2 separate regions of the Homo sapiens genome follow, and region 1 is linked to region 2. A link means that fine-mapping ties the variant in region 2 to the expression of a gene that starts in the linked region. Tissue or cell type: blood mononuclear cells. Region 2 holds a variant in brackets; the other region holds the start of a gene. All regions are shown on one strand. Distances are from middle to middle. Region 1 holds the start of DPH6 (diphthamine biosynthesis 6). Region 2 overlaps DPH6-DT (DPH6 divergent transcript).

Region 1 (2,919 bases), 30 kb before region 2:
CACCGTGGCACATGTATACCTATGTAAAAAAACTGCACGTTCTGCACATGTAACCCAGAACTTAAAGTATAATAAAAAAAAAATTTAAAAAAGGAAAATAATCTTCTTAGAAAGATATGTAAGAATCCCAGTTTCACTTATTCACTTATAATACATAATTATATATAATGCATATATATAGAATACATAGGCATCTGTATCATAAGCATACAGGTAAATGCTTACGTATTCATACTTACAGCATATGTCCTTACAGCTCTTACGCTTCAGCAAGAATTTTCCAACATTGCTTTTTTAGCAAACTTTTTTTATTATAAAGCAACATATGCACATTACAGGTTATTTAGTGTAACTGACTCTACCAATCTTCTCTCCTCCCCTCCAATACTTCTAAGTCTTTGTTTGTTGTGCTTTACTTTAATCGTTAAACTTTTGGCAAGCGATGTAAATTTGAATTATTCACTTCCTGGGGTACTTTTAATTCTTAAAATAAGACACAATGGTTAAAGCTTAATCATTTATGTTACAGAGGACATTTACTGAACAACAATAATTATTGTGACATTATGGTCTAGTCTCCTAAAAATGACATTGAAGGAAAGGGAACCGGAATATTCCAGACACTACAGTAGGTCTGAAATCTCATATCAAGTCCTTAATAGGTCAAAACTTACAGCCAGTATCAATTACCTAAGGGACTTAACGAAAACGTTTATGAAATCTTCAATTGGATTACAAAAGCAAGCACATCGTTGCACTGTATCTAAGACACTCTACAGGGCAAAATCTCATGAAACAAGTATTTAAGTAGTCTAACTTTTTAATGTTGCTAGTGTGTTCCCTTCTGCCTCAGTTTATAGATTGAGTATGGAAATATTTAAGCAGGTTTGTTTTTGGTTTGTCAGTCACAGGACTTATTTAGACACTTAAATTTATGATTTGGTTACTACAGACATCAAACTCCTTTTGGAATACGGAGTATAGGGTAAGGTCACTCTAAAGCAATGATGAGAGTCCGAAGCAACAGCAACTGGATCTAGCATAAGACTAGTACAATTCGGTCTCTACCACGAAGAGAGATCTCTGTACTTGAGTGCCCAAAGGCAGAAACACACACATGCCATAAGCAATCCACATCTGTGAAGATGAGGGAGGGGTGGACTTCTTGGGATGGGCGGAAACACTTACAACTAGGGAGGAAGCCAGGCTGCGGCGGACCCAGCTGACCAAAGGAACTACAGAAGAGGACGAAGAAAGCGAGGGGGAAAGGGCGAGGGTTATTAACTGAGTTGATGGAATAAGGTAGTGGCTCCAAACTTCACGGCTCATTAGAGCTTGAAAAAAAAAAATCAGACGCCGGGTCGCACAGAAGTAATTAAACCAATCCCTCTGGCGGTGGGGCCCAGGCGTCGGTACTTTTTTTAATTTCCCACTTGAATCCAATGGGAATCCAAGTTTAAGGGCTAGAAGACCAGAGAGCGACAGACAGGGAGGAGGCGCGCCAGCCAGGGGCCGAGGCACATGCGGGCCGGCAACAGCGAAGGCTCCGCCTCTTCCTGTGGCTCGGAGGAGCCGCGGAACCCCCAACGCGCGACTCAGACGGAGACACCCACTCTTTCGGCGCTAGCGGCGGCTGGAAGGGACGAGAGCCTGGCCTAGGAGGAAGGAGGCGGCTCCAGGACCGCATTACCTGATCAGAGCCGCGACCCTCATGCTGGGCGCAGTGCGCGTGCGTGCGGCGAGCGCGGGCGGGAGCCAGGAGGTCGCGCCGCAGCTCGCGTGACGCACCGCGGGGCCTCGCCCGGGTGTTCGCTCCGCCGCCTGTCCGCGGATCGGCGCTGCGAGCCCCGCGGCTGCCTGCGGGACACCTGAGCGCGGAGGGTGCGGCACCTTGGCACCTTGACCCTGTGGCAGGGACATCTCGGCCCAGGAAAGAATGAGGTTTAGGCACGGCCTAACCACCTAAGTGAGGGCACTGAAGCTGCCGGGGGAAGGGCAAGGTCCGCGTTGCAGAGCCCAAGCCCAGTGGCGCAGGATTTGTTTTGGTAAGAGGGGATTTAGCGTCCCAATTGCTGCAAATTGACACAGTTGCGGACGTGCAAGCGCAGAAGAAATTTGTCCTTCCTCACCCCACAGAACAGAAACAACTGTACACTTCTGCTTTTTAACTTACATCTCCTCTGTCCTCCAAACCTGTGTGTCCAGATGTGAAACTCAGATCCCCAGGGGCTGTGGTAATTTTTAAATCTGGGGCTAGCCCCCCCCACCTCTAGGCCCTCTGTGGCTTTGGCTCTTGGTCAAGCTTGTGTATTTGACAAGGCCAGGCCAGGCTCTTCACCAAAGAGCAATGGCCTTGCAGAAAGAAAATCTAGCTTCTAAGTTTATTTGCCAAGTATGTATTGAGTGCCTTTCGTGTACCAGGCACTGTTTTAGACTCTGTGGATACAACCGTAAATAAAACAAAAACCCGGCATTCCGGGCATAGAGCTTAAATGGGGATGGAGAGAACAGACAATACATATCTTAAAGGTAAATAGTCTGTTGAAGAGTGAAAAGTGCTATTGGAAAGGGGCGGGGTGCGGTGGGGGAGAGTCAGGAGAGAGGTGGAGAGGCAAATTGCAGAATTAAATCGTGTCTATGTAGGCCTTATTGGTAAGATGAGAGTTGAGCCAATTTAAATAAGGAGAGTTCGCTATGTGTATGATTGGGGTGTGCTCCAGACAAGAAAAAAAAATCGAAGGCTCTAGGTGCGTTGTGTGTTTGTGGAAGATTAAGGCAGATCCGTGTTGCTGGAGCAGATTGAGCAAAGCAGAGAGTAGTGGAGAGCAGGTTAAGGTGATGGAGGGGAAGGATTATATAGGGTCTTGTAGGTAATTGCAGACTTTTGAAGGGTGTGACTTAAAATTTTAAAAGGATTGC
Region 2 (2,919 bases):
ATAATCTCAATCCTGTTACTTTGTTAATTGTATAATTTTGGGGAAAATCCCTTTAGTAAGCCACAGCTTCCACATATTTCGATGAGTTTTTGAGTGGACTGTACAAGATAATGTGTATCTATATTTTCCCAAAAGATGAATATGCTAATGAAATGTAAGAATATAATTACTATGTAACCCATATGCCCCTCAGGAGTATTTGTGCCCCAAACTCTGTGCTCTCATATATAGATATAGATATAGATATGAGATAATAATAGATTGAGGTACAATAAACATATCAGGTACCAAAAATTACTAAAAAGGAATTCCAAACTTTATGTCTATTTATGAAGAACACTAAAGATATGAAATTTTTAACCCATAGCCACACTTCACTAAAGGTCTTTTCTTTCTCCCTGATGGTCTTACACCTCAAAGCTGAATTGGAGCTCTCACCACCAACTCTCTCCAAAAAACTTTTCTGAAAATCTCAGTTCTCCCTACTTTCTGTGCTTTGTGTCCAACCCACTTCTCTCCGCTGACCAAGCCTGTCTTTTTCTCCCTGTTTTCTCAATTCTGTATCACACGCTTGGGAACTGGGCTGGCAAAGACAGAGGTTTCCATAGAAAATGGAGAGGCAAAAAGGTGGATATATCCCACCTGTTAATATTTATCTGGCTATCTTTAACAATATTTTTCTTTATTTCATGTGGATAGGACCATGTTTTACACTTTTTCTGTTTTCCCTGTAGCACTAATCAGGGTGCTGGGTCTATGGAAGCCACTCAATAAATGCTTGTTAGTTGAATTATAAAACATAAAAATTAAGTTGGAGAAAGTCCCATTAAATGGGCACTCTACCACTTCCTAGAAGTATGAGCTTAAGTTAGTTACATATTGAATTTTATTTTCTTGATCTGTATAATGGGCCTGCTAACTCTCACAGCATAATGTTGTAATTAGCATTAACTGAAATAACACATGAATGTATCTGATACCTATTAAACACCAAATGTTGACTACAAACTTGAAAGGCTATCTTATGGCTATAAACAGATGGAGGCTGACACCTGTAGTTAAGGGAAGTTGTTTGGTATTTAGAAATTGGGTTCCAGTGGGCCTTGATTTTCTTATCTACAAAATGAGAGCATCTACCCAGTGGATTTGGAAGGTCACTGAAATTCTAATGATCTCTATTTCTGAGAAGCAAGATACTGGTGCATCATTCTAATCAAATATTTTCTAGTCCTGAAAACTCTAATACAATTTTGCAAAGAATAATGGGAAACTCACCAGTAACTGAAAAAAGTCTCTCTGCTCATTCGGAATATGCTTTTAATGTGTATCAGTTGGTGCTAACCAGTGAAGATATTTCCACTGGGCTGGCAAAAACAAGAAAGACAAAGTATTGGGAATTGTATTAAGTCAAATTTATTCAATTTAATAAGATACTGCATTTTATTCAGTGATTCTTCCTACTACTTCATTGTCAAATTGTCTTTTCATGATACTAAAGTGATAAAATGTAGTGATTATGTATTAAAATTATCATGTGAGAAAATGAAAAGAGGGAATATAAAAAGTTGGCAACTCTGTCAATTTCCTAATTTTTTACATTGTTGATTAATATTCAGGTTCATAAAATTTGAAAGTTTAGAAATCACTGATTTATAGCATAACAATATTGAGACTAAACTTTCTGAAGAGGAATATCTGATTTTTTTGTTGAAAAATACCAAGTCTTAGAGTTTAACTGGTTTTTCTCAGGATCAAAGCCTTAAAAA[T/A]TTTTTTTAAAAATCCTTTTTCTCCCTCTAAGGAGAAAAAAAGATGTGAAACAAAAGAAGGGCAAGAGTCAGATTTTTTTTCCCTGCTCCTGTGGGATCCTGCTGACTAAAATATTTACAAGTGTGGAAATGGCACAGAGGAAGCCCACCACTTAATGCTGGAGAAGGAAGGTTGGAATGGGCTTGCAGCATTCTAAGCCGCAGTGAGCTGGCTTAGAAGCCTTCTCTGCCCTGACCTAGCTCCAGGCATATAGCTACCAGGCCTGTTTGGGATAAATGATACAAAGAGGATAAAACATCAACAACAGTTTTAATTTTAGAGCTGCTACTTGAATTGCCAAGCCCTCAGCAGAATAACATAGCCAGATTTGGAGGAAACAAAATTTTAACAGATATATTAGAAAAACTGAGGGTGAATAACCCAATAAAATGTAAAAGTCCATGCATAGGGCAGATTTTAATTCCACAGTAAAGGCTTGGTTTTGATAACCTTTTGACTAACTTTTGAAGACATTTATATTGTCAATTAATATACAAACTTTATAATGACTGGAGGCATTTTGTGATTTAAGAACTCAATCATGATTATTATGTATTACGTGTCTATATCAAAACAGCTCATGTGCCCTATAAATACACCTACTATGTACCCACAAAAATTAAAATAAAAAAATTTTAAAAAAGAACTCAGTCATGAAATTGCAAATTTAGAAATCATTTGTTAAGTGTTAAAAACTGCTATGGTTGTTACCATTTGTCTTATTTATCAACAATATTTTATGTATTCTTATAATTTGCTCTCTGGGAAATCTAATGTGAAAAATAATCTTTATTCATATATGTGAACCTTGAGTGTTATGGTGAGTTATCTTAGACCTATTGTTCAGACATATCAACACAGAAAGTAAAGGGAAACAAAGAGGACCTAGGCACCGACTCTTCGACCTCAAGGTATTAATCTGCTATCAGAACAAGGGTATATACTTAGAAATTTGGTTTGCTGAATCTATATCAGACCCCATCGGTAGTCTAGATACTTACTTCATCTAGGCATAGATTCATATATGAGGGAACATGCAAAACCAACTCATGTCATCTAAGGACAGGGATGGTTGCAATACTAGCCTCAACAATAGCAATGATAATATAATAA

The links. PIP is the estimated chance that this variant, and not a neighbour inherited with it, causes the effect.
Region 1: it holds the start of DPH6, and the variant in region 2 is fine-mapped to the expression of DPH6 in blood mononuclear cells (TOPMed, PIP above 0.99).

Annotation. Positions count from the first base shown.
Region 1 is chr15:35,544,429-35,547,347 of GRCh38, forward strand. It overlaps DPH6 (diphthamine biosynthesis 6), which reads right to left and starts at 1,737. Exons shown (of 9, transcript NM_080650.4): 1 at 1,691-1,737. The coding sequence starts at 1,713. DPH6-DT (DPH6 divergent transcript) reads left to right here and starts at 1,767. Exons shown (of 3, transcript NR_038251.1): 1 at 1,767-2,045. RefSeq lists an enhancer at 738-1,672 and silencers at 1,720-1,859, 2,160-2,209.
Region 2 is chr15:35,574,717-35,577,635 of GRCh38, forward strand. The region is part of intron 1 of DPH6-DT (DPH6 divergent transcript); the gene reads left to right. Among named protein-coding and RNA genes, the nearest start is that of DPH6-DT, 30 kb to the left of the region's middle. The variant T/A (reference allele first, on the strand shown) is at 1,767.